4 separate regions of the Homo sapiens genome follow, and all the other regions are linked to region 3. The links come from fine-mapping of genetic effects on gene expression. A gene starts in region 3. Each other region holds a variant in brackets. All regions are shown on one strand. Distances are from middle to middle.

What was found. PIP is the estimated chance that this variant, and not a neighbour inherited with it, causes the effect.
Region 1: its variant is the best candidate, but not a certain one, in a credible set for the expression of RUFY3 in whole blood (TOPMed, PIP 0.52).
Region 2: its variant is the best candidate, but not a certain one, in a credible set for the expression of RUFY3 in whole blood (Lepik 2017, PIP 0.64).
Region 4: its variant is the best candidate, but not a certain one, in a credible set for the expression of RUFY3 in B cells (Fairfax 2012, PIP 0.65).

Annotation. Positions count from the first base shown.
Region 1 is chr4:70,767,181-70,773,354 of GRCh38, forward strand. It overlaps RUFY3 (RUN and FYVE domain containing 3), which reads left to right. Exons shown (of 18, transcript NM_001037442.4): 5 at 1,358-1,481. Among named protein-coding and RNA genes, the nearest start is that of RUFY3, 48 kb to the left of the region's middle. The variant A/G (reference allele first, on the strand shown) is at 3,280.
Region 2 is chr4:70,653,776-70,659,825 of GRCh38, forward strand. JCHAIN (joining chain of multimeric IgA and IgM) reads right to left here. Exons shown (of 4, transcript NM_144646.4): 3 at 3,436-3,516; 4 at 1,766-2,764. The coding sequence ends at 2,554. Among named protein-coding and RNA genes, the nearest start is that of JCHAIN, 9.7 kb to the right of the region's middle. The variant A/T (reference allele first, on the strand shown) is at 3,722.
Region 3 is chr4:70,718,470-70,724,643 of GRCh38, forward strand. RUFY3 (RUN and FYVE domain containing 3) reads left to right here and starts at 3,495. Exons shown (of 18, transcript NM_001037442.4): 1 at 3,495-4,282. The coding sequence starts at 4,105.
Region 4 is chr4:70,867,377-70,873,550 of GRCh38, forward strand. No RefSeq gene overlaps it. Among named protein-coding and RNA genes, the nearest start is that of GRSF1, 31 kb to the left of the region's middle. The variant G/A (reference allele first, on the strand shown) is at 3,243.

The DNA.
Region 1 (6,174 bases), 49 kb after region 3:
GTTCAAGTGATTGTCCTGCCTCAGCCTCCTGAGTAGCTGGGATTACAGGCGTGTGCCACCATGCCCGGCTAATTTTGTATTTTTTTTTTTTTTTTTTTTTTTTTTTTTTAGTAGAGACAGGGTTTCTACATGTTGGTCAGGCTGGTCTCGAACTTCCGACCTCAGGTGATCCACCCGCCTTGACCTCCCAAAGTGCTGGGATTGCAGGCGTGAGCCACTGCGCCTGGCGATAGCTCCCTTTTTTTAGTGCTAAGTCATATGCCATTGTCCATTCATTTACTGAAGGACATCTTGGTTGCTCCCAAATTTTGGCAATTAAGAGTAAAACTGCTATAAACACATGTATGCAGGTTTTTGTGTGGACGTAAGTTTTTAACTCAGTTGGGTAAATACCAAGGAATGCAATAGTTAGATCATATGAATTACATCACTGGTTTTTTTGTGTGTGTATTAGTAATTTAGGTGCATTATAAGCAGTATTTAATTATCTATGGGTCTTCACGAATTTTTTTTTTTGAGACAGAGTGTTGCTCTGTCACCCAGGCTGGAGTGCAGTGGCACAATCTCAGCTCACTGCAACCTCCGCCTCCTGTGTTCAAGCGATTCTCCTGCCTCAGCCTCCTGAGTAGCTGGGATTACAGGTGTGCACCACCACACCCAGCTAATTTTTGTATTTTTAGTAGAGATGGGGTTTCACCATGTTGGCCAGGCTGGTCTTGAACTCCTGACCTCAAGTGATCCACCCGCCTCGGCCTCCCAAAGTGCTGGGATTACAAGCGTGAGCCACCGTGCCCAGCCAATAATTTTTATCCATTCAGATTTTTTTTTGTTTTTAGTAGAGATGGGGTCTTACTATGTTGCTCACTCTGGTCTCAAAGTCCTGGGCTCAAGCAGTCCTCCCGCCTTGGTCTCCCCAAGTGCTGGGATTACAGGTGCGAACCACCATGCCGAGCTACCAAACAAATGTTTTAAGATGCATAAAAGATTGCAAAATTATCTGATGGTGCATCACAAGTACAAATATGTCAGAAAAGTCTGAATACCTGCTTCAACCACAATACTGTTCAGTCACGTCTTTCTGCCAGCCTATTATTTAAAGAATCTATTCATGCGCCTATTATTTTTTTCTTTTAAAAAATTTTTTCTCCAGTGCCACTTGCCAACATCCACCTATTATTCTAAAAGTAAAATATTTACTAAAGCCTTTCTTTTTGTAGTTTTTTTTTTACTATTTTTGTAGATGGCTATAATCAACCATGATGACTATGATTCAACCATGAATCAACCATTTTTGTCCTTGTCTCTGGATTTTTGAGATTTTTGTTACAATAAGGAATTCTGTGGATTTCTCTTACAGTGAATTCTACGAACCCAATGCCCTCATGATGGAAGAAGAAGGAGCCATAATTGCTGGTCTGTTGGTGGGTCTGAATGTCATTGATGCCAATTTCTGTATGAAAGGAGAAGACTTGGACTCTCAGGTATGGGAAAGAGACTCATTCCCATGGGTGTCACTCTGAGTTCTGCTATCTCAGAAGTGGATTTGATTAGGTTATACCAACCAAATTAGGCCATATTCTATGAGTCATAAACAGGATTTCCTTCCATTTTGATGGGAATATAAAAAAAAGATTGTTTTTCCTTCCAGTTTGGCTCATTTATACGTTACGAATGTTTTTTAGATTCTTGTCTTGGCTGTACTCTCTGTTAAACATACATATACACACACACACATACACATTTACATACACATACATACACACACAAACACAGGTATACCCAGAGATATTGCAGGTTTGGTTTCAGATCACAACAATAAAGCAAATATCATAATAAAGCAAGTCACATGCATTTTTTGGTTTCCCAGTACATGTAAAAGTTTGTTTATACTAGGCCAGGTGCGATTGTTCACACCTGTAATCCCTGCACTTTGGGGCAGGAGTATCACTTGAACCCAGAAGTTTGAGACCAGCCTGGGCAACATAGTGAGACCCCGTCTCTACAAAAAATAAAAAATTAGCTGGTTGTGTAGCTACTTGGGAGGCTGAGGCAGGAGGATCACTTAAGCTTGGGAAGTCGAGGCTATAGTTAGCCATAATTGTGCATTCCAGCCTGGGTGACAGTGAGACCCTGTCTCAAAATAAAACTCTAAAAAAAATTTTTTAAATAAAAAGTTTGTTTGCATTATACTGTAGTCTATTAAGTATGTGATAGTGTAAGTGTAAAAAATAATGTACATACCTTAACTTAAAAATACTTTATTGCTAAAAAAATGCTAACAATCACCTGAGCCTTCAGTGAGTTGTAATCTTTTTGCTGGTAGAGGGTCTTACCTCAGTGTTAATGGCTGCTGACTGATCTTGGCAGTTGCTGAAAGTTGAGGTGGCTGTGGCAATTTCTTAAAATAAGACAACAATGAAGTTTACCACATTAATTGGCTTCCTTTACAAAAGATTTCTCTGTAGCATACCACGCTGTTTGACAGCATTTTACCCACAGTAGAATTTCTTTCAAAATTGGAGTCAGTCCTCTCAAATCTTGCTGCTGCTTTATCAACTAAGTTTATGTAATACTCTAGTAAACCATGCTGTAAACAGATGTGCTGTCTTTGTTGTACCCTTTATTTTTGTTTTGTTTTTGTTTTTGTTTTTTGTTTTTTAGAGACAGAGTCTTAATGTGTCTCCCAGGCTGGAATGCAGTGGCACCATCTCAGCTCACTGCAACCTCCGCCTCCTGGGCTCAAGCAATCCTCATGCCTCATCCTCCTGAGTAGCTGGACTACAGGCATGCACCACCACACCTAGCTAATTTTTTTATTTATAGTAGAGATGGGGTTTTGCCATATTGCCCAGGCTGATCTCAAACTCATGGCCTCAAGTGATCTGCCTGCCTTGGCTTCCCAAAGTGCTGGGATTACAGGCATGAACCACCATGCCCAGCCCACTATTCCATTTATAAAGCATAGGCAGAGTAGATTTAGCATCATTCTTAAGGGCCCTAGGATTTTCAGAATGGTAAATGAGCACTGGCTTCAACTTAGAGTCACCAGCTGTATTAGCCTCTAACAAGAGAGTCAGTCTGTCCTTTGCAGCTTTGAAGCCAGGCATTGACTTCTCATCTATAGCTATGAAAGTCCTAGATGGCATTGTCTAATAGAAGGCTGTTTTGACTACAGTGAAAATCTGTTGTTGAGTGTATCCACCTTCATCAATTATCTTAATTAGATCTTCTGGATAACTTGCTACAGCTTCTATTATTTACATCAGTGCTTGCTGCTTC[A/G]ACTTGTACTTTTATGTTATGGAGACACTTTCCTTAAACCTCGTAAACCAGTGGCTGCTAACTTCAGGCTTTTCCTCTGCAGCTTTTTTACCTCTCAATCTCCATAGAATTCAAGAGCATTAGGGCCTTGCTCTGAATTAGGTGTTGGCTTAAGGGAATGTTGTGGCTGGTTTGATCTTCTATACAGACCACTCAAACTTTATTCCTGTCAGCAATAAGGCTGTTTTGCTTTCTTGTCATTCATTTGTTCATGAGTAGCACTTAATTCCCTTCAAGCACTTCTCCTTTGCTTTCACAACCTGGCTGTTTGGCCCAAAAAGCCTACCTTTTGGCCTGTCTTCTCTTTCGACATGCCTTCTTCACTGAGCTTAATTTTTTCTGGCTTTTGATTTAAAATAAGAAATGTGCAATTCTTCCTTTCACTTGAACACTTAGTGGCCATTGCAGGGTTATTAATTGGCCTAATTTCAGTATTGTTGTGTCTTAGGGAATAGGGAGGCCAAGGAGAAGGGAGAGAGATGGGGGAACGGCCAGTAAGTAGAGCAGTGAGAACATACACATTTATGGATTGCTTGCCATCTTATATGGGCGTAGTTCATGGAGCCCCAAAATAATTTTGATAGTAACATCAAAGATCACTGATTACAGGTTATCATAGCAGATGTAATAATAAAGAAAAAGTTTAAAGTACTGTGAGAGTTACCAAAATGTGAAACCGAGACATGAAGCGAGCACATGCTGTTGGAAAAATGGCACTAATATACTTGCATGACGCAGGGTTGCCACAAACCTTCAATTTGTAAAAAATGCAATATCTGTGAAGCAAAGTGCAATAAAATGAGGTATGTGTGTGTGTGCGTGTGTGTGTATACTAAAATATATGCAGTTGACTCTTGAACAACAGAGTAAGGCATTCCACATGGTAGAAACATCCCACATAGAAAATTCACCTAAAACTTTTCATTCCCTAAAAACGTTAAGTACTAATAGCATACGATTAACCAGAGGCCTTACTAGTAACATAAACAGTCAATTAACACATATTTTGTATATTATAAATAGTTATATTTATATTTATTTTATTTTATTTTTGAGACAAAGTCTCACTGTCATCCAGGCCGGAGTGCCGTGGAGTGAACTCAGCTCAGTGCAACCTCTGCCTCCCAGGCTTAATTGATCCTTCCACTTCAGCCTTCAGAGTAGCTGGGACTATAGGAACATGCTACCACACCCAGCTAATTTTTTTGTTTTGTGGAGACAGAGTTTCGCTATGTTGCCTAAGCTGGTCTTGAACTCCTGAGCTCAAGTGATCCTCCTGCCTCGGCCTCCCAAAGTGCTGGGATTACAGGCATGAGCCATGGCGCCTGGCCTATTGTATATTTCATATGCTGTATTCTTACAATAAAGTAAGCTAGAGACAAGAAAATATTATAGGAAAATTATAAAGATGAGAAAATATATTTACTATTCATTTAAATGAATGGATTATCATAAAGGAACCAGATCATCATAAAGGTCTTCACACTAACCAGATTGATGAGGAGGAGGAGGAAGAGGAGGCGGTTGGTCTTGCTGTCTCAGGAGTGGCAGAGATGGAGGAAAACCTTTTTTTTTTCTGCCTGGATGACAGAGTGAGACTTTGTCTCAGAAATAAAATAATATAATATAAATATATATTTTATATTGTGTATATATATAGTATATAGGTGGACTCGCACAATTCAAAGTCGTGTTGTTCAAGAATCAACTGTACAGTTGTCCTTCAGTGTCCAAAGGAGATTATTTCCAGCACCTCCATGAATACCAACACTCACAATGCTCAAGCCCTTACAGTCAGCCCTCTGCGTCCTTGGATTTTAGGACTTGCTGAGAATGAGAGCGAACTGTACTAAAGGCCATTAAAGCACGGTAGTTAAGAGTAAAGGCTCTGAAGCTAACTGCCTAGGTTTGGATTCTGGCTTCCTCATTTTCTAGCTGAATATATTTTATAATTACTTAGTTTCTTGTTGTTTCAGATTTCTTGATGTAATGCAGTTAGAACAGGGCCTAGTACACATTAATTGCCCAATAAATAATGTTTTCACTTTAATTACTTCTCACCCTTTCTGTATGAAATACTATGACAAACTTCTGTTATGTTTTATTCTGGTAAAATAGGAAGGGAAGTAAGATTTTTTGGTGTGGATTTTTTTTTTATTTTTTTATTTTTATTTTTTTTGAGACGGAGTTTTGCTCTTGTTGCCCAGGCTGGAGTGCAATGGTGAGATCCTGGCTTACCGCAACCTCCACCTCCTGGATTCAAGCAATTCTCCTGCCTCAGCCTCCCGAGTAGCTGGGATTACAGGCATGTGCCACCACACCCAGCTAATTTTTGTATTTTTAGTAGAGACAGGGTTTCTCCATGTTGTTCAGTCTGGTCTCGAACTCCTGACCTCAGGTGATCCACCCGCTTCGGCCTCCCAAAGTGCTGGGATTATAGGCAAGAGCCACTGCGCCCGGCCTTTGGTGTGGATTTTTAAAAAGAAATAAGCTAAATAATAAAATGGCAATCTTGAAAAATGAAGACGTGTACATCAATGAAAGTTTGGAGGAACAGACACCAAAATATTAGCAATGGTCATCTTCAGTGGTTGGGATTATGAGTGTTTAATATTACTTCCCCTTTTTTTTAGCTGTATTTTCTGAAACTTCTACAGGGGAAATGTGCTAATTTTTAAAAAGTTATTTCTAAAAATGAACAGGGATTCAGTAGCAGAATACCCGAAATAAGCAAAAGAGAAAGAAACTTTAGACCTTATTTATATTAAGTATTCTGTTGACTGTGTTAGTTGTGATCTAGTCTTCTAGTCTTATTGACATAATCTTGATTCTTTACTTCCAACTCTTGTTAATTCT
Region 2 (6,050 bases), 65 kb before region 3:
CATCTGTGAGGGATAATGGGAAGGGAGCCGAAGAAGGCTGAGTCTTCGGATCCTGATGCAGGTCTTACCCATGTGGAGCAAAGAGGATAGGAAGGATGATTGGACAGATAATGTCTGGAGGTGCAGTGCTAAGAAATTTTCAGCAAAGATAAAAAGGAGTCCCCAAGTCAGTGCCCCATCAGAAGAGTCCTGTGTCTCCCGGGAACTGACCTGTCTTAGTGTCCCTTGCACAAACACAGTGGATCTCAGAACTATAGGTCAATTACATTCTTTGCAGAGAACTGAGAGGCTCCTTTCATGGCCACCACATCTTACATTGATTCCTTAGTGTGCCCCTCTAAATGTTCCACTAATACCAGCAAATGTTTGAATACAACTTAAAGAAAGGCTTTAATCTATCCTCAATAACTCTCATTTAAGAGTCACCAGCTACTCCAGATTTATATTGAATGAGTTAATATATATAAAGCACTTACATTGGTACCTAGCACATAGTAAGTACTAAATTGTTACTAGTATGGTAGTATCAGAGTTTAACTGAACTTCTGAAAGAAGGAAGACTTGTGGGACTACGAATTGCAGTCTTCTTCCAGCTAGCATTTAATGAGGTAATAATGCTGGAATAGGGGTCTTTCCTATAAGGATCTGCAATGTGGATCTACAAAACTTCTTCTACTGGGTACACCGAGAAACTAAGGCAAAGATGAGGAGAAAGTAAGCGGTCTCTTCAGAAGCAGTCTCTCATGAATTCTCATAGCACTTTGGAAGCTATTTCTTTGCCTTCAGCAGGCTCTGCCAAATAATAATTATTTATGTGTATGTCTTATCTCTTCAACTAAGCTACACTCATGTTCATTCATTCAACAAATATGTATTGAGTACTTCCATGTGCCAGACACTGTTCCAGATGGTGAGGAAACATCAATGGGCAAAAGTGCGTGCCTTCGTGGAGATTACACTCTAGTGAGGGGAGACAGACCATAAACATGACACGTAAGTAAATTACCTAGTCTGCTAGAGGGAGATAAGTACTTGGGGGGAAGTAGACTAAGATAAAGAAATGGGGTTTGAGATATTTAAAAAGTAGTCAGGGTGGTTCTCACAGAGAAGATGACACCTAGGCACAGTTCTGGGGAGCGAGCAGTGATAGTGACTTTCTCAAGGGCGCTCACCATAACTTCACCACCACAGACCAATCCTGTGCATTTGGTTAATATTTAATAAATGTTTACTGACTAAATGAGATTCAAAGACTTGGCTAAAACCACACTCTAGATTAAAGATCAGTCAAGAATGGATGTATCTTTAATACACCAAAACTGGGGTTTCTACTGAAGCACCAGTGTCCTATGCATATCCCTAAAGAAACACTGAATAATCCGTGGAAGTCATTAAAGATGACTATTACCAGAACAATTCCTTTTCAAGAAACCAACTCTTACTAATCATCTTCCCACTGTTTTAAATTCAGAGTTAGCATTTACTTTCCATGGTACCTTTAAATATATATGTCAATTGGCCTTGGCTTTCTGCCATAAAGTTTTATGTGCCATGATAAACATGGTATTTATCAGGGGGGATTTTGCCCTTTTATTTAATTATGGGTATAAAATGGCAAAGCCACCTCAAATATGTACATGTATTAGTTCTGTGATTAATGCTTCATTACATCATACTTACAAACCATTCATCAATAACAAGTTAACTTACGTAAAGAAAGTTAACATAAGGAAACTTTTTTCCAACAAATTATTTCACACAGGTATATGCTTATGAATCTATTTAATTGCTCAGACTGTGCTAGAGAATACGTACCATGAAATACATATATTTCATAAGGTTCAGTTACAAAATGGATTGTTTCAAATGGCAATTTCTTACACTAACCTGATTATGAAAAAAAGAAGTCTGTATCATCTGCTTCCAAGTCTGTTATGTCCAAATATATTTTAATTATGCATTTATTTTGCTACTTTTATAAATATTAGAGATTTCACCTTAAATTATTTTTGTAACTAGTTCTAGAACATGTTTTCCAATTATTATTTTTCTAATGGAGACATATAATTGACCTATGTTTATGCATATATGTTCTCTACACAGTGAAACTTTTTTTAAAAAGAATAGTAAAGAAAATGCGGAAGCTCTGGCTCTCCAAGGCAAAGTCAAAAAAAAAAAAAAAAGCGGGGGGGAATGCGAGGAACATTTTATTACACCTCCTGATTTTCAGTCCTTGAGTTTTATTTTCTCCCCTTGTTTATTTGTTTAATGCTAGAAACTGTATTCCTAAGAGAGCATACCTCTTTCAGGTGAGCATGATAATTGGAAGATTTTGATACTTAGAGTATGAACATATAATTAAGAAGTGATTACCTAATAAAGATAACAATGTGACTATTTTAATTATTTTGGTGGCAGGGAGTTGGTTTTACATCACCCAAAAAAAAAAAAAAGCCCTGGTTTCAAATTCATTGGTAATAAATATGCTAACTTTCTGAATCAAAATGGAGAGCCTCTCAAGAAAAAGAGCTATGCAGTCAGCAATGACTTAAATTAGTCAGGATAGCAGGCATCTGGGGTTAAGGCTGTTTCCACCATTTTGGTCTCACCACCATATACGAGTGGGACCACAGCTGTGTAGCACTTGTTTCTGTCATAAGTGTAGCAGGTCTCTGTAGCACTGTCTTCATCACAGATATTGCTCTGGGTAGCAGTAACTATCTGATTATCCAGCTCCACTTCTGTAGGATCACATTTTTTACAGCTGAAAAGCAAATATATGTATTAGACAATCCCCTCAAATGCTGTCTCAAAATGTGACTACACATTTCAATCCAAAATCAATTAGTTCTTGCAGCTCTGACATGACAGCAAGGGATGACTCCTTTCAGACATAAGCAGCTCTACAATACAGAATAGCTTATGGGATTTTCCAATCTTTAATATATATTAGTTGAAAGTAAGCAATATAATTAATGATATGATAATATGATTGTTTTATCTACACCATACAGCAATTTCTACTGTGTTAGGCTTATTCCCAACTGTATATCTGTCTAAACAAGTTATTTATAGTGACAAGAAAGGGAGAATTTTTAAAAAAATTGATGTTGGAGTCTGTCATTTCCAAAGAAACACCTGCCTTTTTATAAGATCAAATCCACTTATTGAACTATTAAGAGAAATTGGCCTTTCTATGAATGCCAATGATTTTTTCTTTAGAAAAAATGTATAGCTAAATTTTATCTGTGACAAAGTTTTATGAATTTATGATACCTAATAATTAACATAGGAATTAATGTATTCAAAAGTTCAGATTATGTTTGTAAATGTTTATACTCCAACATATTTTTAAAAACATTCTTACTAACAAGGTTAAAATTAAAAGCTATTAACTTCCACATCTATATTACTATGGAAAAAAATATATCTTACAGGTCAGACAAATGGTACACAAATCTGGTTCTCAATGGTGAGGTGGGATCAGAGATATTCTCCCTGTTGTTCAGAGGAACACTAAAAGAAAAGAAAGAAAACAAAGTTAAAACAATGAAATGCAGATATTGTTATTTTTGGTAATGAGTATACGGCCACTATTTCATCAGAACAGTACTTATTGTATTTAGTACTCTATAAGCACTCTAGAGTAATACCGTTACTCAGATTTTTATAGTAACTTGCTATATTTTAAATATTTCTCATTCAAAATAAACCTCACAAC[A/T]ACTCCGCTGTCAACTATCTTTGCTGACTTGGCAAATTTTTGCTTTTCCTTTAAAACTCAACTCACGTTTTACCTCTGTAATAATTATATTGATGTTATCCCCACCCTTCAACAAACTTCTTCCTCTGCAGTCTCATTAATGCTCATATATATTTATTATATCAAATGCCGTATCATAGTTGCTTGTCTACAGAGTGGTTGCTTCCCTGGGCTATGTAAGTTCCTTGAGGCAAAAACATTTATGTATTCCCAGTGCCTAGCTAGGTATGTGGCATATGGAATATGTTCAATATATGTGAAATGGACAGACAGATATTATTATCCAGATTTTAGAGGAGAGGAAATCATAAATAGGAGAGGTTAGTGATCCACCCAAGTTCACACAACAATTAAGTAGCAAAGCTGGAACTTTTTCATCGTGATGTCCCATGAAAAATTAGATGATTGTCAACGAGTTCAGGTGATTTCATTAACTTTAACATTTTTTTCATCTAAGTCATCATTCCTTCTCATGTGCAGCCCTCCCTACCAAAAGGAACAACAAAAACCTTGTGTTTCCTAACTCAGTATTTATAAATACCATCCAAGCCAAAAACCTGGCTATCATACCTGAATCCTCCCCTGTCACATATCTAATCAATCTCACAGTCCAGTTGATTCTAATTATTTTCATGTGTGAAATCCATCCACTTGCCTCTCTTCTCATTATTACTGCCTTAATTCAGGACACCACTATCCTCTCCTAGATTGTAACAATGTCTTCCTTTTGTCTTGACCCCTTCAAACCACTGGCCACATTATTGCCAAACATCCTTTCTAAAAATGCAAGCTTAATTTCCTTCTCTGCTTAAAACCTCTAGTGTCTCTCCACAGATAACAGGGTATCCTCAAATAGCATAGAAGGCACGTATCCTAATATGCCCCTAACTCTCCAGCTTCATCTCTCACAATGTCACCATCTACAATGCATGCCAGCTGTAAACAATCACTTGCAATTCCACAAACGTACCATGCTTTTCTCATCTCCCATCTTAACAATAACAGTTCTAACATATAATACTGGTTACAGTGTGCCTGGTACTATGCTAAGCATATTACGTGATGATCTCATATAATCGTCACAGCAATCCTGTTTCCTTTTCCTGGAATGACCTGCCCCACCTATTAATTCTCTCACTCCCCACACACATTTAGCCAGCAAACTCCTATTGAGCTAACAGCCATCATCCATCCCACCACTTATTCCAAGCACCCTTTCCTGCCTCCCACTGCCACCCTTCTCCTCTCCCCCAGGATTGGACTGGGTGCCCCTCCTCAGTACTCCTATAACAACCCATGCCCATTCCTATCATAGCACTTACAATACAGAATTGTAATTGCCGTTTTAATTGTTTACGGTTTCCTGTTAGACTATAAATTCTTTTAAGAAATGGACTATATTTTAAATAAACTGTTTTATCCCCACCACCAACCCTTAATATTTGGCAGTTACTAAATAAACATTCGTTGAATGAATGAATGAAACTATTCTTAATAAGACTGTAAAGACTCTAGTAATATCAGAAAAAGGAGAGGCTACTATAAGCCAAACACTGTTCTTTTATGAATTATTGTATTTAATCCTCACAACCCTATAAAGTATATGTGTATAAATTCATACATGCATAATTATCCCTTTTTTTAAAGTTTAGGAAAAAGGCTAGTTAAGTAACTTGCCCAAAGTCACATCATTTTAGTAAGTAATGGAGTTGGGAATAATACCATAATGGCAGGCTCGGCATGGTGGCTCACGCCTGTAATCCCAGCACTTTGGGAGGCTGAGGCAGGTGGATTGCTTGAGGTCAGGAGTTCAAGCCCAGCTTGGCCAACATGATGAAACCTTGTCTCTACTAAAAATACAAAAATTAGCCAGGCGATGAGGAGTGCATATGTAGTTCCAGCTACTAGGGAGACTGAGGCAGAAGAATTGCTTGAACCTGGGAGGCAGAGGTTGCAGTGAGCCAAGATCATGCTACTGCACTCCAGCCTGGGCAACAGAGTGAGACTCTGTCTCAAAAAAAAAAAAAAAAAAAAAAAAAAAAAAAGCCAGGCACGGTGGCTCATGCCTGCAGTCTCAGCACTTTGGGAGGCCAAGGTGGGCAGATCACCTGAGGTCAAGTGTTCGAGACTAGCCTGGCCAACATGGTGAAACCTCATCTCTACTAAAAATACAAAAAAAAACTAGCTGGGCATGGTGGTGCGTGCCTGTAGTCCCAGCTACTCGGGGAGGCTGAGGCAGGAGAATTGTTTGAACCCAGGAGGCAGAGGTTGCAGTAAGCCAAGATCGCAC
Region 3 (6,174 bases):
CAGGCCTATTCTTTTAGGGCCACAGACTGAACTCCCACCCGCCTCACAACCATCTTACAAATAGGTGCCATTACTCACAAATGGGATCAAATGAGAAAATAGTTCAATACAGCTCATACAGTAATTACTCTGTATGTGAGAAAAAAAATCAAGGTTTGAATATCTTACTGATGGCTTAACTTTAACTTCATATTCAAAGCTAAGATGTTTACTTAGTAAAGACCAAAATGTAAAAACGGTACTAAGCAATATCTAAAATCTTTTTTTTTTTTCTTTGAGACGGAGTTTCACAGGCTGGAGTGCAGTGGTGCAATCTCACCTCACTGCAACCCCCGCCTCCCAGGTTCAAGCGATTCTCCTGCCTCAGCCTCCAGAGTAGCAGATTACAGGCATGTGCCACCACGCCCAGCTAATTTTGTATTTTTAGTAAAGATGGCGTTTCTCCATGTTGGTCAGGCTGGTCTTGAACTCCCGACTTCAGGTGACCCGCCTGCCTCAGCCTCCCACAGTACTGGGATGACAGGCATGAGCCACCGTGCCCGGCCGTAGAATTGTTTTTATAAGTTTCTACAAATAGCACTGTTTTCATAGTAACTTCTTTGCCTGTGAACAATGGATAACTGTTCGTGCTGAAGACTCAATGGTGTTTACCTAAAGAACAGCGTAGAAGTACAGTTTTTCTTGCCCACCCCCGGGTCTTATTTCTGAAATGGCTGCCAACACCTCAAACTGGTAGATCTGGGAAATTCAAGGATACCAATACAGGCATGTTTTTCTTTCCTTGCCAAAAACTTTAGTTGTTTTGGGCTTGCCTCTCTGTGTCCTCTACCTGGAGAGAGGCAGGGTGGGATGGATCTTCCGAAGGAATGTTAATCAAGTTTCTTGCTCACTAACCTTGATGTTCCTGTTGTGTTGGTATGTTGCAATCAATCTAGATCTGTTCAAGTTAGTAAATGCTTACTGGGGTGAAGAGATTGTTGTGGTTTGTGACAAGGCCAAATTCAGGTTTTGGACCCCAGACAATCACATGGCATTCGGATTTATTCATGTATTCCTTGTTCTGTTTTAAGAACATATCAGTGATCTAGAGTTTTGATATCACACATACAGATAGCTAGGGCTGTTTGGAGTTGTGGTTCCAGGAATGTCCCATGTAATTTGAAGGTTTTAATGACTACTTACTATGTTTTGAAGTATTGCATGATATAAAGTGAATCTATAAACTGTCCCCTTATTAATATATAATATGGGAATATTTTTGGCTAGAAAGGAATTGAACTGAATTAAATGAGAATGTGTTAAATGAAGGCTTGTGTTCAGTATTTGGATATGAAAATTCTGTTTCCTGGAAAAGGTGTTTCTGTCTTACTGCTGCGTGCCTAGTGCCTGGATCACTACCTGGCATGTGGAGCACCTCTTAGTGAATATCTGTTGAATGAATGAATGAATGAATGGCTCTGAGTCTAGATGTAGGGTAATGATGAGAGAGAATGAGATAGAAATAAAACCAGGAGTATTTTGCTTTCCTTAGTAACTTACTGATTTTCCCCAATTATAAATAAGCCTATATATATGCCTTCTTACATTGTACCAGTATACCCTCCTTCTTTTTTTTATTTTGAGACAGGGTAGAGTGCAGTGGTATGATCTCGGCTCACTGCAGCCTCTGCCTCCTGGCCTCACGTGATTCTTCCACCTCAGTCTCCCAAGTAGCTAGGACCACATGTGCGCGCAACCATACCTTGCTAATTTTTGTTTTTGTAGAGATGGAGTTTTGCCATGTTGCCCAGGCTGGTTTCAAACTCCTGAGCTCAAGCCATTCACCTGCCTCAGCCTCCCAAAGTGCTGGGATTACAGGCACATGCCACCACATCTGACTAATTTTTGTATTTTTAGTAGAGATGAGGTTTCACCATGTTGGCCAGGCTGGTCTCGAACTCCTGACCTCAGGTGATTTGCCCGCCTTGGCCTCCCAAAGTGCTGGTATTATAGGCATGAGCCACCGCGCCCAGCCATCCGCCCTGTCTTCGTAACAATATGAAAATGCCAGTTTCTCTACAGAATTTGATTATTAGCATTTTTTTCTTTCAGTTCAGTCTCAAATTATGATGAAGCATTTGAGATTTTAACAATATTCAAGGAGAATTTTTTTAGTTTTCAGAAATTAGGTAAATCAAGATGTCCCTCTGATAACAATCCCTAGAAAGGAATAGTCTCAGGTCATATTTCTTGAATTTGTATGTTCCTCCTTAAAATTGGAACCCTTCAATACAAAAACAAACAAACACTTTCTTTCAATTGTCCAAAACATTTTCAAAGAAAATTCTTATTCTTCTCTTTGTAATTTATGTAGTTCATAAAGCAAGTACCTGCCCTTTTGCTACCAAGGTATAAATGCCTCATTGGATAATATAGGGCCGTGTGTGTGTGTGTGTGTGTGTGTGTGTGTGTGTGTGTGTGTGTGTATTAAGAAAATATAATTGTCTTCAGTATCTTATCGAATGGGAGGATTTTAAAAATATAACATGGTTTAATCTGCTTAGAAACATATTTCATGCTTAAGGCTGGGCATGGTGGCTCACGCCTGTAATCCCAGCACTTTGGGAGGCTGAGGTGGGAGGATCATGAGGTCAGAAGTTCAAGACCAGCCTGGCCAAGATGGTGAAACCCCGTCTCTACTAAAAATACAAAAATTAGCTGGGCGTGGTGGTGGGTGCCTGTAATCCCAGCTACTCGGGAGGCTGAGGCAGAGAATTGCTTGGACCTGGGAGCTGAGATCACGCCACTGCACTCCAGCCTGGGCTACAGAGCAAGACTCTGTCTCAAAAAAGAAAAAAGAAAAAAAAAGAAACGTATTTTATGCTTAATACAGAAACTTGATAAATACAACAAAATCAAAAAGGGGGGAAATTGCCATTAATTGGGAAAGATTTTACTTTTTTAACTTGAAGTTTTTTTTTTGCATTTCTGCCTAACCTAAAAGGTCAGGTTTTTGTACCTTGGAGAAGGAAATTATAAATGCCCAAGAATAAGATATTTAAATTGAAAATCTACTTTAGCTTTTCTTTTTATCTTTTTGTTTTTTTTCCCTCTGAGAACCTCAATTTTTTATGCTTTAGCTTTTCTTAAAACATAACATTTAGCATAGTAAAGAATTTTAATAGCTATGTAGATAAGAATGAAAGAGGTGAATTATATGCTTGTTAAATTAATCTAACTGCCTCTTTTACCATCTTTACTATAGATTATTATCCGGTATTAATTGTCATCCTTTTATTCAGTCCTTGATCCCAAAGTAAGAAGAATTGATGAGGATATGTGCATTGTGTTATGTCTGATCACAGTTTGACTAGCACAGTCTGGAAGTGGGTTGTACAGGATGAGAGAGAGAAGCCTAATTGCTCTCCCAGCATCAGCAGCATCTATAAAGCATCCTGGGAATTGCTTGCCCTACGTTCAGAGCAGCTGGTCACATGAGCCTGAATTTTCAGTTCAGTTCATTAGTCAGCCATTTTGGTCAACACCCTGCTTACTGCGCACGGCCAATCCTATGAGAACTCAGCATCCCAGCTCATCTGAGCAGATCCTGGAAGTGATTTCTGCAGCTCAGGATTTTTTTTTTAAGCTACATTGAAAATATAGGTTTATTTTTTGTTCAGGTTTTTCTTTTATATTTTTTTTCTGCACAAAGGAGGAGGATTTTTCACTTACTCATATCGAGGCCAGATTTTTAAAGCCAGCTAAGGCAGCATCAGCTGTGCGGGATTTAAAGCCTATAGCTCAGCTGAAAAAAAAGGTGGGGGGCAGGGAAGGGAAGATAAAAGGAGAGGAAGCTGGGAGAAGACAAGCATCATCTTATTTTGCTATGTGGTAGGAACTGTCTATAAGATAGTGTAGAATTGTTTATCTTGAGCAGTTTGTTCTTAACCTATAAGGTATTTTTCCTTTTTTTTTTTTTTAAACCTCCCCCACCCTTTTCCTGAAAGCTTTGTTTCAGAGCTTTGTATTGGGTTTTTTTGGTGAGGAGGTTGTATTTATTTTTTTGGTGTGTGTGTGTGAGTGTGTGTGTGTCTGTGTGTGTGTTGTGGTCCCAGCTGAGTCATCATGTCTGCTCTGACGCCTCCGACCGATATGCCAACCCCCACCACTGACAAGATCACACAGGCTGCCATGGAGACCATCTACCTTTGCAAATTCCGAGTGTCCATGGATGGAGAATGGCTCTGCCTGCGAGAGCTGGATGACATCTCACTTACACCTGACCCAGAGCCTACCCATGAAGGTATGGTCAGATCCTGTCCGCTAGTATTTCACCAGCATCCTCATTGTTATGGGGGAGGGCTGGGAGGATCAGGGAGAGGTAGAAAGAACCTACACTCTCAACTGTTAACAGTCCTGAAAACCTTGCATCCTTACTTACCACCCAGCTCCCCTTCTCTTGCTCATGGGGGAAAGATAATTTTTTTTCTTGCCCCTTTAGGTATCCTTTCAAAAGATGCTGGATACTCGTTTAGAGTTCTTTGTCTTTAAGCCTCTAAATAAAACATTTGAGGTCACTTATCACATCTGATTCTATTCAATAATGAGAAAGCTATTAATTTTGTTCATATATGAAAATGTTATAGAAATTGTAGTGATTTATAACACTAAGTTAAGACAACATGACTATAATTATAGGATTGTACATGATGAATACAGTAGAAACACCAGGGTATTTGGTAATGGTATCCTCACCATTATATGAGGATACAATTTTAAGCAAGTTATGACATCTAGGAAATGTTTGATAAAACATTTTTTTAACAATATGGATTATTAGGTTAGATGAGAAAATAACTTTTCAGCATTTATTTATTGAATATGGACTCCTAAGAAAGCATAATGCCTGGAAAGGTTAAATATGATTAATATGGCATCCCTATAGATTACAATAGAATGGTAATATTGGAATCTATTGGCCATTGCTTTTTATAAATTATTTGTGGTAACTATTATGATCCATTTGAGATTTCCACTGTCAGTACCTCTGAGATCTTTGTGGTCTCTTGACTTGCGACTTTTTTCCAGGACTCTTGCTAATTTATGAGAGGTTTTCTGCTTCTACCCTTTAATTCTCTTAATACCACAGAAAGAGAGCTGATTTGAATCATAGCTACAAATCGTTTTGTTTTTAATACAGTTGCTTCTTAGCTAAGGTTTATTCTCTGTCCTTATACTGATGAAAAAAAACAAAAAACGCTTGCATATGAGGAGAAATTCTTTATAAACATCTGCCTGATAGTTAGGCACATCGACAGGACAAAGAAGACCATAGGTGAATTGTACCTAGCAGATGGGGTTAGGAAAGGTGATTCTCTGCCTTTGACCTTGAGTTGAAATCTTATCATGACTCAGAATTTTCCCATTGTGTTTGATAAGCATTTTATCTTCCCAGTCAGCCTTAGCCTTGAGAAAGTTTTAGGGATGGTTAATAACACAGAACACAAAGCAGTCATTTTGGGTGTGTCTTTAAGAACAATGTTTAAGTGGTTTTTAAGACCCTTTGCATCTTTTAACAATTGGTTTGTTAATTAGACAGCTTTCTTTGGCTGTATGTTTCGTTATGTGCACAAGTTATAAGACATCAGCTGAAATTCCATGCAATGCCAGTACTATTTATTTTTTATTATTATTTTATTCTATATTTTCATCAAAACATCGTTACATCCAACAATTCCAGTACTACTTAAAACAGCCTCCAAAGCTTTAAAAGTCTTTAGGGAAGAAAAATACAGTTTTAGAAGGCTACCAAGAAGTCTTCTGGCAACTGCCTCAGTTTACATATTTTGTTTGAAAAAAATGTATTCCCGTCCAATTTGAGAGTTATACAATATGAAATATTCCCTTTATCATGAAATCTAGTTTACCAGTGTCTCAAAAATAATTTTTAACAATTTTAACACCTCAAATATATGTTTTTGGAGCAGGATTCCTATGGATAAGCAAAAGTGAGCTGTTTGGTTCATGTAAGCGTTTTTAGCAGCGCCATTTGAATTCTTCATAGAGAAATCTGTAGCAACACATTTCTCAGTATGGAAAATGTGTGAGAGCTATAATCTAAGTAATAAATTGTATGTCTGCTGATTAAAGAAATCAGATAAATACAGAGTTTCCAAGACCTGTAATCAACTATAG
Region 4 (6,174 bases), 150 kb after region 3:
GTTGAGGATATTTACAAAGAGCTATCAATACTAACAGGAAACAATCACTGCCTCAGCTGTGCCTGGATGTGCTAGTTTTTTGTTTGCTTGTTTGTTTTGTTTTGTGTTTTTTGAGACGGAGTCTCGCTCTGTTGCCCAGGCTGGAGTGCAGTGGCGCAATCGCCGCTCATTGCAACCTTCGCCTCCCGAGTTCAAGCAATTCTCCTGCCTCAGCCTCCTGTGTAGCTGAGATTACAGGTGCATGCCAACGCACTCGGCTAATTTCTGTATTTTTAGTAGAGACGGGGTTTCTCCATGTTGGTCAGGCTGGTCTTAAACTCCTGACCTTGTGATCTCTGCCCCCCTCAGTCTCCCAAAGTGTGCTGGGATTACAGGCATGAGCCACCGTGCCTGGCTTTTTTTTTTTTTTTTTTTGGTGTGTGTGTGTGTGTGTGTGTGTGTGTGTGTGTGTGTGTGTGTGTGAGACAGAGTTTCACTCTTGTTGCCCAGGCTGGAGGGCAACGGCATGATCTCGACTCACTGCAACCTCTACATTCCGGGTTCAAGAGATTCTCCTGCCTCAGCCTCCCACATAGCTGGGACTACTGGCACGCAACACCACTCCTGGCTTTTTTCTTTTCATAGAGATGGGATTTCACCAAGTAGCCCAGGCTGGTTTCAAATTCCCGGACTTAAGCGATCCACCTGCCTAGGCCTCCCAAAATGCTGAGATTACAGGCATGAGCCACTGTTCCTGACCGATGGGCTAATTTTGAATGTGTGAAATATTAAATCAAAATCTCTAGTGGGCAACATTTAGTTGGTTCATTTTAATATTATGTAATGTGCTTGAACTAATAAAAAAGTAAACTTTAAAAATTATTTTTGTTTTTGTTTGGAAATCATCACAATAAAATAAATTTTTTTTTATTTTGTTTGGAAATGGAAATTCCAGAATAATTTCAGTAATAGGTAAACTCTATAAAGCATTCAGAGGTTTGTGTAATTACTAATGTAGCTAGAGCAGTTTCTCAGTTCATCTGACAACTAGTCCAGGCACAGTGGCTCACGCCTGTAATCCCAGCATTTTGGGAGGCTGAGGTAGGTGGACTGCTTGAGGTCAGGAGTTTGAGACCAGCCTGGGCAACATGGGGAAACACTGTCTCTACCAAAAATATAAAAAACTAGCCGAATGTGGTGGCGCAGCTGCTTGGGAGGCTGAGGTGGGAGGATAACTTGAGACTGGGAGGCAGAAGTTCCAGTGAGCTGAGATTACAACACTGCACTCCAGCCTGGGCAACAGAGAAAGACCCTGTCTCAAAACAAAACAAACAAACAATACTGATAACTATTATGGTCCTCATTTTTACTTATGGTCACCTAGTCATAGCAGATATTTATAATTACTATCCATACCATAGACCCTTTGCCCTTAGCAAGCACCTCATCTGGTCATGGTTCCTTGACTGGTGGGGTATCCCAAATCTTCATTTCTGAAGGGTCTGGATCATTAGCAGTCCCCTCTGAATTGGGTTGTTAGGGTTTCTCCCTTGACTTTAATCACAGGACATGGGATATTAACAGCACTCCAGGGATCACCCACATTCCAGACATACTTTTCCTTATCCCCATTGTGTAGAAGCAACCCAGTTTTCCCCTGGTGATCAGAACCAATCACTCTAGGTAGTCAGAACAGTTACCTTCTATTTTGTCTGTTGATTCATTGGCATGATGAGCCCAAAGTGACCATGTGGCAGTCTCAACTTTCAGTTTAGTGGAACAATTGCTATGTCCTCTAGTGGAAGCATCCTACTTTGGGAACTAAGTCCTCCAAGCTAGCAGATCTCAAATTCTCAGGGATAGGAGGCAAAAAAAGTTTCCTAGTAGATCATTAAGAATAATAATGAAAGGAGCCATGTCCAAACTCACCACCACCTTAATTCCCAGACCCATGAATCCTGGCTGTAGAAGAAAGAGCACCATCTATGTTATTTTCTTTTCCTTTTATTTATTTATTTATTTATTTATTATTAATTTTTTTTTTTTTTTTTTAGAAACAGGGTTTTGCTATGTTGCCTAGGCTGGTCTCAAACTCCTAGCCACAAGTGATCCTCCCACCTTGGCCTCTCAAAGTGTTGGGATTACAGGCATGAACCACTGCATCTGACCTATGTTATTTTCTGATTTAGAGCATATACTACATCCTGGAGGACATTGTCTAGGCCTCACAATGTATGCCATATGACACTTAGCTGGTGCCATAAATGAGTCTTCAAAAAGCCATTCCACCTTTCCATCAGGCCAGTGGCTTTAGGATGAGGGTGACAGGGTAAGACTGGTGAATTTTATTAATATAAGCATAGTTCCATTGCTGTATTTCATTTCTATGCAAAAACTTCCTAGGCTGGGTACGGTGGCTCACACCTGTAATCCCAGCACTTTGGGAGGCCAAGGTGGGCAGATCACTTGAGGTCAGGAGTTCGAGACTAGCCTGGCCAACATGGTGAAACCCTGTCTCTACTAAAAATACAAAAAATTAGCCAGGCATGGTGATGTGTGCCTGTAATCCCAGCTACTCGGGAGGCTGAGGCAGGAGAATCACTTGAACCTGGGAGGTGGAGGTTGCAGTGAGCCAAGATGCCGCCACTGCATTGCAGCCTAGGTGACAGAGTAAGACTGTGTCTCAAAACAAAAAACAAAACAAACAAACAAAAAGACTTCCTGCATCAGAAGTGATGCTATATGGAATACCATGATTGTGGATAAGTCACTCCGTAAATTTGTGGATGGTGGTTTTGGCATAACCTCTACGTGCAGGGAGAGAAAATCCCTATAAAGAGTATCTGTTCCAGTGAGAACAAAGTGCTGCCCCTTCCGTGATGGGGGTGGTCCAACGTAATAAATCTGTCCCCTAGAGAATCATTCTAAATAGGGGGCTTAGTTGTGATTTGCTCTAGCAACAAAAAATTGGAATTCACAAACACAAGCTGGAATCCACCTGTTGTTCAGTCTCACAACCTCCGACTGTGATGATGTGGGTATCCTGCAGAAGCTGGCACCCCTCGTTATGAGGCTAAACATGAACCTGGCCCAGGAGGCAGAGAAGCTGAAGTGGGCAGTGGGGAGCTACAGCAGCTTCTGTCCCACATCAAGGAGATAAGCCAGCAGATAAATAACACATGTGTAATGTGCAACGACACTTGGTGCCTCTGCACTGATCTCTTTTTTTTTTTTTTTTTTTGAGTCAGTGTCACTCTGTCGCC[G/A]AGGCTGGAGTGCAGTGGCGCCATCTTGGCTCACTGCAACCTCTGCTTTCCAAGTTCAAGCTATTCTAGGGCCTCTGCCTCCTGAATAGCTGTGATTACTAGGCGTCCACCACCATGCCTGGCTAATTTTTGTATTTTAGTAGAGACAGGGTTTCACCGTGTTGGTCAGATTGGTCTCGAACTCCTGACCTCAAGTGATCTGTCCTCCTCGGCCTCCCAAAGTGCTGGGATTACAGATGTGAGCCACTGTGCCCAGCCTGCACTGACCTTCTGAGAGTGAAGACAATATGTTGCTGCTCCCTTTCTGCTTTCCACATCTCATGCAAAATGTCTCTGTGGCCCACTTTGAGAATGTACAGGGAAGATAATTCTGGGAAATGTAGTTCAGCCTAGCCAAGTAGGCACATTACAAAGCCACTACAGAAGGTGATAAGTGCTATAGTGAAAAAAATAATAGAGCGAGGAAAGGCAGATAAGAACTGGGAAAAGGGGTGAATTTCAATTTGTAACAGTAGGGTAGGCATCAATAAGAAGGTAGTATTGAACAAAACTTTCAAGGAAATGAGGAAATAGCCTTGCAGATATCTGGGAGAAGAGCATTCCTATTACAGAGAAAAATCTTTGCTCCAAGTTCTGCATTCATAAAAAAGGAAAAGTAACAATACCTATCTCAACATCATAGCGTTGTTATGAAGATAAAATGAATTACTACCTGCAAAGGACTTAGAATAATGCCTAGAATTTTAAAAATTGAGGATGGACATGGTTGCTCATGCCTGTAATCCCAGCACTTTGGGAGTCCTAGGCAGGAAGATCACTTGAGGCCAGGAGTTTGAGATCAGCCTGGGCAACACAGTGAGACCCCCATCTCTACAAAAAAATACAAAAATTAGGCCGGGCGTGGTGGCTCACTGCACTCAGCACTTTGGGAGGCCAAGGCGGGTGGATCATGAGGTCAGGAGTTCGAGACCAGCCTGACCAACATGATGAAACCCCGTCTCTACTAAAAATATTAAAATTAGCTGGGCGTGGTGATATGCACCTGTAATCCCAGCTACTCAGGAGGCTGAGGCAGGAGAATCACTTGAACCCGGGAGGTGGAGGTTGCAGTCAGCTGAGATCGTGCCATTGCACTCCAGCCCGGGTGACGAAGTGAGACTCTGTCTCAAAAAAAAAAAAATTAGCTGGGAGTGGTGGTACATACCTGTAGTCGCAGCTACTCCGGAGGCTGAGGAGGATTCACTTGAGCTCAGAAGTTTGAAGCTGCAGTGAGCTATGATCACACCACTGCACTCTAGCCTGGGCAACAGAACAAGACTGTCTCTAAAAAAAAATAATAATAGGCCAGGCATGGTGGCTTATGCCTATAATCCCAGCACTTTAGGAGGCCAAGGCGGGTGGATCATGAGGTCAGGAGTTCAAGACCAGCCACGCCAACATGGTGAAACCCTGTCTCTAAAATATAAAAAATTAGCTGGGCGTGGTGGTGCATGCCTGTAGTCCTAGCTACTTGGGAGGTGGAGGCAGGGGAATCATTTGAACCCGGGAGGCAGAGGTTGCAGTGAGTCGAGATCGCGCCACTGCACTCCAGCCTGGCGACAGAGCGAGACTTTGTCTCAAAATAATAATAATAATAATAATAATATATAAAATACTATTATTTTTGGTGTATTGAATACCATATGATTTCTAAAACCCTTACTATAATAGTTCAGATATGAATCCAGGAAAATGATTGTGTATCATATTATCATCATCTCATTCCCACCAGATACAAACTAGCCAATGATTCTGCAATATCACTCAATTTTACTGGGTTAGTGAACCTTAGATTTCCAAAGTGAACTATACATTTCTTTAGCTGTAATTTCTGTTTAATTTAAATGTTTATTTTCATATTTCATAATGATTTAAATGTTTATTTTTGTATTATGAGTTAAAACATAGTTTAATATACTCTTATAGTCAATGTTTATTATTAAGATTACTAGGTATTACCTTGTTCCAGTGGTCAATTTTAGCATCACTGTTAGTGGGATGAGATAGTATGTGTTTCCTAATGTGATGCGAGATAAAATGTACACTATCATTCATTGTATTCTAGCCAAAAATCTTTAACTTGAATCTATGAAAACATTTACACTGAATTTCCAGTTTACAGGAAATACAAAGTTCAAATAATAAGCTAAATGAATTCATGAAGAAAGTATCAGACCAATTCAGACTATGGTGTTTTCTACATTGATCTCTTTAGCAAGTCAGTGTCGTGGGAAAAAAGAAGGGGACAAGTCCAGATTTAAAGAGCATATCAATACCACTTCTTCACTATTTCAAAGTGATCTTTGGCCACTTATTCTTACTCAGAACAAGAGAGCAGCTGTAGAGAGCTACAGAGAGCAGTTCTGTGTGAACACCTACATCAGCACCATCTCACCTGGGCACCACACTACAGCATTGCACTGTTTGCTAGCACTTCTCAACTCTTGTGTCCTGCCCAGAGTTTTCCTGAGACAACGAGGCTTGAGATGCTTTTGCTTGCTGGGTGCCCTTGCATTTGTAACTCAGAAGTAAGGGGAGAAAGTGCTCCCAAGGAGCAAATCTTTGGCCAAAAGGAAACAAGAACTAGCAGATAAATTCTTCCCTGTTTCTTGACTTTCCTGAAAGGCATTTGTTCATCCAACCTCTCAGAAGATGGCCCTAGAGGAACAATCAGTCACCCTTGATATAAGTGGTGGTCGGTTTGGAACAGCACCCTCAAATTCACTCTACTAGTTTCCTTTCCTCCACTTCCCTTTTCCTTCACTCCTGCTGTCTTCGGACTGCGCTCTCTATAAAGTAGCAGCATATAAAATTTTGTTTCAAGCTGTGCTTTCCAGCTGAGGCACACATAGGGACATAACAACCTGATGCAAAGTGTGGTCCTAAAACATTT